4 linked regions of the Homo sapiens genome follow. The protein of the gene in region 3 purifies or fractionates together with the protein of the main gene of each other region. This does not show direct contact. Each region holds a gene or a part of one and is shown on either strand. Other genes may lie near its edges.

Region 1 (3,500 bases), on a different chromosome or scaffold from region 3:
ATGTTTCACACAGCTTCATGTGTTTTGAGTGAGACATGTCCTTGGACGCACACTGGACATGATTGCTGAAGCCAGGTCAGTAGAAACCATTGAAGTTTATTGGCGGTCACAATGCTTACACTGTATGCAGCAAACACCCTTACAAGTCTATCCGCAACCTGATCACGCAAGAAAGGATTCATCACACAGTCGCCAGAGGAGAAGGAAAAAAAATTAACAGGCTTGTTTCTGGGGGTAGAGGAAAGAAATAAAAATAAAACCTAATTGATGAGTGTCCCGTGGGCAAGAGCTGAACTAGAGATGTGTACAACTAGCAGCAACAATTGTGGAAAAAGTACAAGGCAAATAGCTGTCTCCATTAATTTTCCTCTGTAGGTTATTATTTTTTTTAATATTCAAAACATTTATTATGGTTTTCATTTTATAAAAATGTATATTTTTTAAGGGATGGGAGAATGTTAAATACTTCATGCTAGGTAGACCTTGTTATTAAGAACCCTTCCACTGTAGTAACTTCCTCCAGTTCATACATTCATGAGTGCAGGGTACATATATAAATATCCACACGCATACATCCACACACACTGCCTCGAGGGCTGGGGAAGACTAAAATTTATTGGCCACACACAGCAGGGCCTCTGGTGGACTCACCCACATTGCTCCCAGGAGAGCAGTGGGCTCACTTCCTTCTCTCTGGTCTCTGCCTTCACACAGACCAAGAACCCTACAACACGTCGTTAAATCCAACTTTTAAAAGCAAGAGGCATCTGTCTGAGGATGAGGGTAAGCAAAGTAGGAAAGAGGGTGGAGATAAGAACACCAAACACTTTTAGCTGGAGTTATTTATCACTGCAAGGGGCTAGGGACCCAGGGCAGAATCTACACGGTCCAAGGGGAGGGACGGTGTTCTGGCATGGCTTAGAGTTCCTAATAACAAGGGTTAATACAGTAACAGGAATTGATCATTTCTGGGTGAGGACAGGGCAATACGAAAAAATATACATTTGGAATTTTAGCTTTTTTTTTGCCTCTCTACTGTGTCACTAAATATATCTCTGCACTCTCACACATCCTTGTCCAGTAAAGCTTCAGGCCACCAGAATACACATTTTCTTCACTCGCATACACAACCCCTCACATCAGCATTGGTGCACTAGACTCTGTAAAAATTTTTCAGTCACACTTTTTGTTTTTAAACTTGAGTCAATATAAACCTTGTTCAAAATGTTATGAAAAAATGTACATGTTTATACAAGGCAGGTTGTGGCAGGACACTAGGGGTTCTCCCCACTTGGGTGGCCCCAGGAGGAGAGGCTGGAGTCTCAGTTTGTATCTCTTATCTCCTCCCACCACCCTTCCCACCCAGTCCCCCAGGAACCAGCAGCGCCCTGCCCCCTAGTGAGTGTACTCACACCCCTATTCCCTGGGGAAGCAGCTAGTTGACCTTTGCCATTTTCCCCACACCCCTGGAGAAAAGAGCCAGGATCAGCCAGGCCCTCTCCCTTGCAATTGTTCGCCCCTCTGGGCCAAACCAAAGGGACGCTGCTCTGTACAGGTAGAGTCCAAGGAGGTGTCAGCTCATCATGTCATTGCTATTCACGCCATAAGTGGAATTCTTCATTGAGTCGTTGACTTCTCGACGGAATGCTGACAGGTTCTGGGTGAACCTGCAGAGAGGATGCATGTGGGTTGGGGGAGGAGAGTGGGGGGGAAAGGTATTTGCCTTTTTTTTTTTTTTTTTTAAAGCATGGGAAGTAGAATGTATGAATTGATGGGTTCTGTTTCAAAGATCAGTTAATTTCAGTCTTAAGACTCTAAGAGAAAAGTTGGCTTAGAGATCTGGTCAAATCTGGGGCCCTGAGGGCTACCTTGGGCTCATGGCAGCACAAAAGAAATCTCACTGACAGAAGTAGGAAGTTGCCCTCACACGTGAGGGCAGTAAGCCAATGAAGCCATCTCATTTCTTAATGCAGCAAGACCAGGTGGTGCAGTGCTATGCTGTCCAATAGGGCGGCTGCTAACCACATATGGCTACCGTGCCCCTGAATTATGGCCAGTGTGACTGAGAACATGAATCCAAATTAAATACAATTTAACATTCAGCTCCCCAACTGCATCTTAATTTTAAATTAAAATGCCTTGTTTTAAATTAATTAAAATTAAATAAAATTTAAAAGTTAATTGCAAAGCCCAGATACTCAATGCAGTTACTGGAAAGTCCCTAGGTGTGTTTGAAACAATCTGGGTATTACAGGAATCTACTTTGTCAACTGTAAATTTATGAAATCTAAATACAGATCAAGTATTTCTGATGAAAACGTATGAACTGAGATATGCTGTTAAATGTAAAGTACACAGGATTTTGGAAATGTAGTACAAAAAGAATGTGAAAACCCACAATTTTAAAATACTGATTACACACTGATACAATATTTTAGATACAATGGGTTAAATAAAATATATTATTAAAATGAATTTTGCCTGTTTAACATGGCTCACTTTTCTATTGCATTGCATTGCTTTAGATGGCCTCCAAACACAGATGTCAAAGACTTTAAAGCAACTGCCTGTTTCGTTGATTTGAAAAATAGCAATTGTCTGAGATTTCTAGGCAGGACGCTTTATACTCACCTGTCTCTGTTTTTCGTAAGAAGATTTCGCTCGATGCCTTCCATCAGGTTCTCAAAACACAGGTGCATGGCCTGCTGCTTCTCCGGTGGCTGGCTGTTCACAATACTGTTTCTTAGGTCAGAAAAATACTGTGGGGCAAGGAGTGGAACAGAAGGTTAGAGAAGCAGGGGAAGGCAGATTAGCCCTCCGTCATCTGCAGGGTTGAAGAATGTTCTTCTCTAAGGAGGAATGGAATGTCTACTAAAATTGGACCCTTAAAAAAGAAATTCAGGCAAGCACTTGTGGGATAATATGGCTTCATCCTACTAAGAATATCAAGAATTTTTAAATTGTAAAGCACTTTAAAAGGGTCATCTTATCCAGACCTTTCTTTTACCAGAATCTCAAGACTTGTTTATAGCAGAGCTAGAACTAGAACTTAGGTCTTAGGTCCTCTGATACCCAGGTACATTATTTCCTTGAAAGGTTTCTCTTACTGCCTAGGGGAAACACTCCTTTATCCTGTGTCTGTGAGCTACCACACATGCTGACTTCTAACAGTTAAATGATTATGTGATACTGAAAGCACAAATGGGACTTGCTCAGTAAATGACCCATTTTCCCTGTTTCACCACCGTGGGGTGTTTCTATACACATTTCTCCCAGGGCTTGGTGATACCAAGTGCGTGGTTGCCACTGCTTCTGGGTTGGCACCAGGGAGCTGGCTCTCTCACCTTTTCATTAAGCAATATCAAGCCAAGTAGTGGTCGGGACATAGACCACTGGTTCCTACAGTCTTCAAAGATGATGATGTTCAGCACCGTGGACAGCATCTGAAAATGGAATGGAGAATTTCAGGCAGTGACCTAATGTATTGCTACCCAAGATAA
Region 2 (3,136 bases), on a different chromosome or scaffold from region 3:
TTTCTAAAATTGCTTCTTGAATTGCCAAATGCCACTGATCCCCTATTTCCCTAAAAGTTAATGAAAACAAAAATCAACAACCATATTCCTACTCGGTAAAAATTCTTCACTGTCTCTTACAACATATATATATTACTAGAATTGGTATAGTTTTAAAACCACATACGATTTTAATTGGTATTAAGTAAATGCTTGTTGACTAACAGGAGGTAGATTTAAAAATTACAATTCAGAAGTCTCAGCCCTCCTCCCACTTTCCAGTAAAAGAGTGCAGAGCGCTGGCCAGGCGCGGTGGCTCATGCCTGTAATCCCAGCACTTTGAGAGGCCGAGGCAGGCGGATCATGAGGTCAGGAGATCGAGACCATCCTGACTAACACGGTGAAACCCCGTCTCTACTAAAAATACAAAAAAAAAAAAAAATTAGCCAGGCGTGGTGGCAGGTGTCTGTAGTCCCAGCTACTCGGGAGGCTGAGGCAGGAGAATGGCGTGAACCTGGGAGGCAGAGCTTGCAGTGAGCCGAGATCACGCCACTGCACTCAACCCTGGGCAACAGAGTGAGACTCCGTCTCAAAAAAAAAAAAAAAAGAGTGCAGAGAGCTGAGGCAATGAAAGACTAGCCCACCGCTGCAGAATAAATGGATTGGGTCATTCCTATGTTTAAAAATCCTGTGTACTTACAGTAATTTCTGTTTTCTTTCTATTGTTAATAAGTACTTTAAATGAGTTGTGAACTTATTAAAGTTGTAAAAGTTAAATGTTAGTTATTTGAGACAGGGTCTCGCTTTGTCACCCAGGCTGGAGTGCAGTGGCGTGATCTCGGCTCACTGCAATATGTGCCTCCCAGGCTCAAACCATTCTCCCACCTCAGCCTCCCAGATAGCTGGGACTACAGGCACACACCACCAATTCTGGCTAATTTCTTTTGTATTTTTTGTAGAGACGGGGTTTTGCCACATTGCCCAGGCTGGTCTCGAACTCCTGAGTTCAAGTGATCCACCCACCTCGGCTTCCCAAAGCACTGGGATTATAGGTGTGAGCCACTGTGCCCAGCCGAATGTTATTTTCTTTAATTGTAATGATAGGTTCAAATTCCTAAAGAAAATTCTTAGTAAATACTACATTTGAGCTTCTCTTTTCCAAAATAATTGATACAGGACTAACATTTTGTACAGTCACCTTACTATAATGACAGTTTTAAGGTGTTTCTGCTGTAGTAAGGGACATTTGTCTTGCTTGTGAGACAAAGATGGCAGGAGAGAGAGGAAAGTGACTTCACTTCAAATCACAAATTTTCATCTTAGGTAATAAAATAGTGGACTTGCCAATTCCTAAGGCATGAGGTAAGATTCCCAACAGAGGTATCATCACACTACTAATTGTTTCTATCTCTGCAAAATAGAGGCGGTGTTTGTCTCTGTGTGTGTGGGGGGGGTGTGTGTGTGTGTGTGTGCGCGTGCCCACGTGCAAACACGTGTGCATACTGCTTCCTCACATTTCCAATTTTGCTGTCACTTATTTGGAATTTCATCAATGAGTGATTAGATGAGACTTTGGGGGTATTGTATACATATTGTAATTGCCACTGTTGGGACTTTTAAAACAAACAGAATTTGATCTGTACTATCACTGGATAGATAAGCAGTGCCCTCAGGAAGCTAATTCTAAGAACTATTACAGCTTATATATGAAATACTGTGAATTCTAAGGCAGTCACTTTTGACTGTGCTATTCTCTGGAAGCATATGTTGTTGGAATTATAAAGTCTGAAAAGTTCTTCAAATATTATATTGACAAGTGGAGACAGGACTTTGTAGAGAAGCAGGTATATACATCTTTGTAGGAAACTTTTTACAATTTGAGATTTGAAATTTGTAAGCAGCAGTGATTGTATCTATATTTTCTACTGAGGCAAAAATATTGACAGTCATGTATAATGACTTACACATTTAATAAAGGGTACTCTTTGTCATTGTGAGTCATTAATTTGCCTCAAGCATTTATCTATCTGCTATGACGATTCATAAGGAATACAAAGATTTATAAAAGTTTTACAAATCTTTATACATTAGTGTCCTTTGGCCAAATCTTTGCTTGGAATTTAATGAAAGAGAAAAACATAACATTTCTGTGGTAGAGATTCAGAAGAAAAACATTTTCAATTACAGACACACCATTATAAGAATATCATGCATTTTCCAGCCAAATATTCAGAATAAGAGTTACATGTACCCCTGATCATAATACTTACATAACGGGATCAAACATATTCCGAATCTTTAGACACGGTGTCAAACTATTTGGTGGTGAATTTCTTCTATCTAAATGAAATGCTACAAAAAACAAGTTAGTTTTACTATTTGACATTGTTCTAGTTTGTTGAAAGGTATTCAATCATTCAGTTCATTCAAAAAATATTCACTGCATGCTTTTACTAGGAGCCAGACCCCTGGTTAGATGTTAAGGTGAGTAAGACAGTCATTGCTATCAAAGAGTTTACAGTTTAATGGGAGAGACAGATGATAAAGAGTGTCATGTAAGAAAGTACAACTGTGATTAAGTCCTTAAAAAAAAAAGTACAAAAAGCTTTTTAAAAGTAACTTAACCTCATATGAGAAAATAAAACTTCCCTGAAAAAGTGAAATTTATGTGGGAACTGAAGAATAAAAATTAGCAGGGTGAAGAGAGGTGTGTAAAGGAAGATTTCAAGCAGAGGTGATTGCTTGTACACAGCTCCTGGGGCACGAAGGAGCAAATGTGGCTGGAGTAGAAAGAATAGAGATAAACCTACAGAAGATGTCAGATTATTTAAGATGATGTAGGCTACAAAAAAGTATTTGGGCATTATGGTAAGAGTAATAGCCACTCAACTGTTTTAAGGAGTAGAATAGGATGAGATCTGTCTTTTAAAACTACATATTTTAAAAATACATTGTTATGTGGAGACTCAGGTAAAAGCAGAAGTGAATGCAAGATGACCAGTTAGAAGGTTATTATTATATTATAGTTGTCTAAGAAGGAGAGGATAATGATGTGGGTAAGACAGGCCAACAGTGCAAGTGACAAGCGGATAGAATCAGGACATATTATGGAGTAGATATGACATGACCTGTTGAAAGGTTGGACAAAGAGGGATAA
Region 3 (2,936 bases):
TGGTGGCCTCAGAGTTGTGCCAGAGGGTGGATGAGGGCCTGTGCCTCCCCCAGAGCTGGTCGTGGAGGGTCCCTGGGAGGGCTCAGGGGGTCTGGGGACCTCGGAAGTGGTGCTGGTCCAGGGCCCAGTTGTTCCTCCAGCCTCTGGGGATGGGGGGACATCTGGGGGCCGGGAACAGTGCTTGGGCTTGCCTCTGCCCGCCCCTTGCACACCTACCGCGGGAAAGGAGCCACCGAAGGGGCTTATTTGGAGAACCCTGGGGGCTCACCTGTGGAGGGGGGCTTACCTGTGGAGGGGGGCTCCTGTTCGGAAACTTGTATCTCAATGACTGTGGTTGCGGTGCCAGAGGTCACCGTGTTGTGGGCCTCAACCTGGGGCAGGAAGGGGCTTGTCCCTCCTAGACACATCTTTAAGCCCCACACCCTTGGAGATGCCCGCCTGCCCTGCCCCGCACCTCTGCGTAGAAGGCTCCCGCCTGTGCCAGTGTGGTGGTGGTCAGCACAACCTCTCCCTCCATCCGGAAGTGTGAGTGGTTGGTAATTCGATATGTGATGGCCGAGTTGAGGTCCTGGACAGGGTCTCATTGAGTCCCCGGCCAGGCTGCCTCCCACGTACAGCCCTGACCCACCCACAGAGGGGAGGCCTTGGATGCACTCTCTACCGAGAACTCCGGGTCCTGAGCCTGGATCCTCAGAGGCTGAGAAGGGGCAGCTGCATCCTTGACCACAACGCCCGCTCCAGCGCCACGCGCCACGGTGCCACGATACAGTCTCTGGGGGAAGCGGGGCGGGCTCCCGGCCGCAGCCACAGCCTCCACGGTGACCTGGGTCACTGAGTAGCGGGCAAGGTCGGCCTGTTGGCCCTGGAGGCGGGGGAGGCAGCAGTGACTAGTGGGGTTGAAGGTGGAGCTGGCGCTGAAGGCTGGGGCTCAGGAAAGGCAGGTGCAGACTTGGCGGGGGCCCTGCCCCGGCCCCCCAGCCCTGACCCCCCGCCCTACCTTCCACCCTTCCCCCTCTGCCCTGCCCCCCATGCAGGTGCCCACCTCACCTTCACCAGCAGAAGGAAGGTCATGGGGCTGGGGACACTCCTGGCCACGGTGAGGTTGCCCGAGTCTGGGTGGATGATGAATGTACCATTCACGTTTCCTGGGAGGATGATGGAAGTGCTCAGCCCCGGCCCCCTGAGGCCCAGGGACCCAGCCAGCTCTGCCCAAGGTGGGGATGGAGACAGGGACAGAGGGGGTACAGGGCATTGTTGAGGGCTGGGCCCCACTCACCCCTAAAGATGCTGTAGATGATGGGCTGGTTGATGCCGCGGTCTCCGTCCTCAGCGTAGATGGGTCCGGGACGCAGGACGAGGGGAGATGGCTTCAGGGATGGCGGAAGGGAGGGCACGTCGTGGGGCTGGGGTGGATGGCCCCAGCCTGGCCCCTCTGACTCCCCATCAAGGGCAGGGTTGGCTGAGGAGGGGCCCAGTCCCGCTGGTGGCCGGGCGTCCCTGCCTGCCTAGGACAGTCCCTTGTCCCAGCATCACAATCAGTAACACCCCTGTGGGTCCCTTACTAATGAATGAGTCCAGTGGCCCAAAGATACTGAGTCCCATTTGCACAAGGCTTGTCTTGACGGGTAAGCAAACATTTAGGAAGTGGGGGCTCCCGGGGTCTGCATTTCTGCCTCCCATGTACTGTTTGGTGGCCCCAGGTGCCTTGGTGCCAGGAAGGTTTGCAGACAGCCTGTGTGGGCCCAGTGGTGACTGTGAGCAGGGCAGAGATGTCAGCATCCCTTAAGAGCTCCAGGGCCCCAGCCCACCTCCCCAGGCCCCTGAGACCGCCTGGCTCTGGGGCCCACGCTCCTCCCTGTGTGTTCAGGGTTTGCTCCCTCACCGCTCAAGATGGGAAGGGTTGGTTTACAAGGAGAGTCTGCATTTGTTTCAAAATCACGACCGAAATCGGCCCCACCCCCTGACCCCGACCCCGCCCTTCCTCTCCTGATCCTGGCCGTCCCTGTGTCCAGCCTGCCTAGAAGGCCCTGCCCCGTGCACTGCCCCTCCCTCCCCATTACCAGTATGTGCCCCGTGGGGACAGCCCCGTGGTACTGAGCTTGAATGCAGACGTAGCCATCTGAGAAGGTGCAGGGCAGGAACCACGGGGGCCGCAGGTCGGCGGGCACCACGTTCAGCACTAGTGTGGCGGTGGCAGTGTGGCTGGGTTCCACATTCTCCCCCGGAGTGTCCTGCAACAGACGGCTGTGCTGGATCAGGCCTGGGAGCAGCTGGGGCCGGGGGGCCTCAAGTGTGTGGGACTCGGGGCTGGGGTGACCTGCTCACCCGCACCAGCAGCCAGAAGGTCATGTTCGGCCGCTCGTAGAAGTCCAGGGGCCGGTCCAGCCTCAGGGCGGGACGGTTTACACTCACCAGGGAGAAGTAGTCACTGGCACCCTGGGGAGGGTCAGGGAGGACAGAGCCTAAGAGCCTTGGAGGGCGAGGGCGGCTGTGGGTGTCAGAGGCGAGGGGCTCGTGCTGGGGCAGGGTGGGCGGCACTGACTGCTGTCATTTCCTGGAGGGTGTAGAACAGAATGTCGTCCTTGTCGCGGTCCTCAGCCTGCAGTTGCGTCTCGGGGATGACGGTGGAGTTCACTTTCGTGTCCTGGGGAGGGAGAGGGGCTTGGTCCGGCCACACTCTTGGCCCCTGTGGACCCCCACTGTGGTTGAGCCCCCGGCCACCACTCACCTCCTGCCCTCACCCTGGGCTCCCACACCCCCGTGCCCAGTCCCCGCGGCTTCGCTGGCCTCACCTCCTCCACCCTTATCTCCTTGGTCTTAAAGGGGAATTCGGGGGCATTGTCATTGACGTCCAGCACTGACACGAACACCCTTAGCTGGGTCACCTGCAGGATGTGGCCGTCAGCCTCTCCCACAGCCCCTCCCCGTTGTGAGGT
Region 4 (3,500 bases), on a different chromosome or scaffold from region 3:
TCCCGCTAATTGCAATAAATAGAATCAAAGCACTCGTGAGATTCTTCTCAAATATACACTCTCCATAAGAAAAAGTACCACTGTTTTATATGAGGTCAAACCTGAGACTATTTATTGGATTAAAGGGCTTGTATATGAAACTTTGCAGTTAAATACTAAAGATTTTTTTTGTTGTTGTTAAAAAAAAAAAAAGCCCTGCTTCTGCAGGAATGGTCACTTTTAAAATTCTGTCTTTGGAAGTCCATGGATCGTGTCACTCCTTTGGTGAGGATGACCCTTGCTTGGGAGGTACTCTTGCCCTGGTAAGAGGCCGTGTAACTGGCTTTTAGTGTCATTTCATCTTAGCCAAAGACATAAGAATTTCTCCGATGTCCTATACCATCCAGCTCTGTGCACCTGTGCTTTGAATTGTACATCCTTATCTATAGAAACTGGAGGTGAAAACTTTAACATAATAAAAACATTACTTTGCCTAAGCCATCAGTTAGGCATTTATCTCTGTAGGGAATCTGCTGTGCTTGGATGTACAGGGCAGATAGCTGGTAAAAAATTCAGAATCCTGAGTCTTTCATATTACAGATCTCAAGCTTTTTATCACCTTGGGACATGATTAACAACCATTATTGCTATTATTATTATTGGTGGCTCTAATTCCATGTTATTTACAGAAAAATCTTACAAAACTATGCCTATTTTTTAAATGATGATTTAAATAAATAGCAAAAAAACCTTGCAAGAATATTATTTTGGTACTTTGTACTTTTAAACCATAAACTGAACAAAAGATACTTTTTTGTAGAAGCACAAATGTGAAGTGTCACTCGTTCTGAGACTTCCTCCTCTGTGAAATTCCACAATCTCTTTCTATTTATAGACTTTTCCACAGCAAACATTAGCTGAAAGAGAGAAAAATACACACTAATTGAATGTAAAATGAAAAAAAAAGATGAGTGTTGAAATAGGCAATTATAATGTCCCCAACTCTCATTTAGCTTTAAAATTCCATGATTCTTTATTTATTGGAGAAGGGGTCTCACTATGTTGCTCAAGCTGGCCTTGAACACCTGGGCTCAAGTGATTCTCTCACCTCAGCTTCCCAAGTAACTGGGACTACAGGTGTGTGCCACCATTAATTTTTCTTTTCTTCAAATTAAAGACTGGAGCTAATTACTAACATTTTTGAATTCCTTTTAGGAAATTACAGAAAAATTGGGTTTAAATAAAAAAATTTAATTCACTATCATTAGAGATTAACTGGACACAAAAAATTAATTTGGGGCAACTAGAATTTATATAAACTATAGAACAGAGACTTTAATTAGAATGAGAAATGATAAGTGATTTTAACTAAAGAAATCAAGCATGTCACCCATTTAGCATTTCTTATTTAAACGTCACACAAGACTTAAGGCAATATATAACAACATATAAAATATAGTAATAACAAATTGAAAGTTAAAGTAGAATAGTGAGATAAATTTGTGTCAGAAATAAGAATTATAAAAATGCATACTTGATGTAAGGGGTGGTAATACATTTCGGTCTAAGCTTTCTAACAATAATGTGCAGAGAGAAATCTAATCTGTAACCTAATTCACATGGTCTGTAAGCTAAAAACAATCATCAGAGGAGGCACAACCTTCTTCATAATATAAAAAGAAATTCTTCCGGAAACACAATATTAATGTAATATGATGAATAAAGTCCTTAACAATAATGGGTGACACTGACAAGTTTTATAAGGCTGTTTCTTGTAGTGTTTGTCAGTGTAGCCAGTGGAAACAATTAGATAATTGAAACTCAGTAATGTCAGAGATAAAGCATTTCTAAAGTTTTATATACTTTTTAGGAACAAAAGATACAAAAGCAAGGAAAGTGGGCCTGGCTGTATCTCTCTAGCACTGGGCCCACATTCAACCCCCTCAATTCAGCACCAGCCAAAAAAGGTTGCACAATGAATGCTATTAATATTAAATACGCATAGATTTCGGTTAAATTTCAAAATGCCAAAGAGAATGAACAATTGTAAACAAGGTAAATTTATTTAAGATGGAAAAGTTGGCAGAGGGTTAAACAATTTAGCAGGGAGGAGAATATCTCCATTTTCTTCCCTTACTCCCTTAGGTGCAAATATCAAAGGCTTGAGGCTGGGACATCTGACAGGACAGGTTACAAGACTGAAAAAATCTGTAACATCTGAAGTTCTCAGCTGTATATTTTTTACCTAAAAAATGTTTTTCTGGGATACTGTTGGGGTTGGGTTTTATATGTCTCAAGATTTTAAGGTTCCCCCTCTTTTGGGGTATGAAATACCCTTCAAAAAGTTCATGTGGATCCTGAATGCTAAAAGAGCTGGCTACACAGAATCTACCTTAGGTTTGGGTTTAAGGGAAAACAGCATGTGGACCTTCATATTTACTTTTACACTATGTTACCCAATTCTCTGGTGCAGCAATTAAGCAAAAAACACAGGAGATTTCTGATAGATACTGTGTCCAGGAATAATCTGATTGTTTATGTTTTACTCTCAGGATCTCCGGAGAATTGAGAAGAAGGTAAAGAATTTCAGCACCTATTAATTTCATGTTACAGTAATCACTAGGTACTAAATGGAAGGTGTGACAGAATACTGCTATTGCATAAGAAAAACTGTTTAAAGCATTATAATTTGTTTCCTAATAGTCAGAAATTACCTCTAAAATAAAGATTATTTTAAAATATGTAGTTTTTCTGTCAAAAAGAATTACTTCCACAAAGATGCCTTTTTTACAACAAATTATTAGATCCAAGTGACTTTGAGTTCTTAATATTATAATTAATCATTTGAATTTTTCAATATTTTACAATGAATTATTTGTTTGCATAATTTACATGGAATTACTGTCATTAGTCATGGTTATTATTGAGAAGTAAATAATTTAACTTTTTAACTTGAGGAAAGAATAGCTTTTTCAAATTTGTATGAAATGCCATATGGGCTGATGATAGCCCTGTTTTGGGTAGTGTACTAAATAAAGAATAAAATTACCCATGGAAAAAATAATAAATAAAATGTGTAGTTTTTAAAAATATAAACATTTTTTACACTCAAGATATCCAAGCAATTGAGTGACAAAAGCTTTTTCAATGTAACCCCAACAAAAAGAATTATGGAAAACAAATGTAAATATGCCTAGAATCATTACACATACTCATAATCAGTAAAAATAACATATAACTGATTTCATTAAGAATTTTCGATATATCAAACTTACTCTACGCAGGGCATTTTGAAAATCATTTGCCAGTTCTAAAGTAGTAATAATAAATACTCCAAGAACTAAAAGTCCCCCTGGTAGCATTCTGGATACCTAAAAATAGAAATATATTATTAGCTAACAAATTGGCATTATATGCAATCCTTTCTGTTTGAGAAACTGTCTGCTTAGCATGTCCTTAGCTTTTCACCTTAAAACTACTTTATAAATAAAACTATCTGATAACAACATCCTTTAGCTACA

Evidence for each region. Proteins that work in one complex are often made in the same cells at the same time.
Region 1: the proteins of CDHR5 (region 3) and XPO7 purify together in Homo sapiens (affinity purification with mass spectrometry; 2 studies listed by BioGRID and IntAct, with this or other methods). This does not show direct contact.
Region 2: the proteins of CDHR5 (region 3) and LEMD3 purify together in Homo sapiens (affinity purification with mass spectrometry; 2 studies listed by BioGRID and IntAct, with this or other methods). This does not show direct contact.
Region 4: the proteins of CDHR5 (region 3) and ODR4 purify together in Homo sapiens (affinity purification with mass spectrometry; one large-scale study listed by BioGRID and IntAct). This does not show direct contact.

Annotation. Positions count from the first base shown.
Region 1 is NC_000008.11:22,003,162-22,006,661, reverse strand, and holds the end of XPO7 (exportin-7), read right to left. Parts: intron 3,444-3,500; coding exon 3,345-3,443; intron 2,760-3,344; coding exon 2,632-2,759; intron 1,668-2,631; coding exon 1,574-1,667; 3' UTR 77-1,573; downstream 1-76.
Region 2 is NC_000012.12:65,242,583-65,245,718, reverse strand, and holds part of LEMD3 (inner nuclear membrane protein Man1), read right to left. Parts: intron 2,332-3,136; coding exon 2,250-2,331; intron 51-2,249; coding exon 1-50.
Region 3 is NC_000011.10:619,020-621,955, forward strand, and holds part of CDHR5 (cadherin-related family member 5 isoform 1 precursor), read right to left. Parts: intron 2,886-2,936; coding exon 2,793-2,885; intron 2,645-2,792; coding exon 2,543-2,644; intron 2,437-2,542; coding exon 2,326-2,436; intron 2,232-2,325; coding exon 2,061-2,231; intron 1,368-2,060; coding exon 1,277-1,367; intron 1,146-1,276; coding exon 1,048-1,145; intron 863-1,047; coding exon 662-862; intron 569-661; coding exon 455-568; intron 372-454; coding exon 287-371; intron 162-286; coding exon 1-161. UniProt on the Homo sapiens protein: Intermicrovillar adhesion molecule that forms, via its extracellular domain, calcium-dependent heterophilic complexes with CDHR2 on adjacent microvilli. Thereby, controls the packing of microvilli at the apical membrane of epithelial cells.
Region 4 is NC_000001.11:186,385,838-186,389,337, reverse strand, and holds part of ODR4 (protein odr-4 homolog), read right to left. Parts: intron 3,351-3,500; coding exon 3,255-3,350; intron 897-3,254; coding exon 790-896; intron 1-789. UniProt on the Homo sapiens protein: May play a role in the trafficking of a subset of G-protein coupled receptors.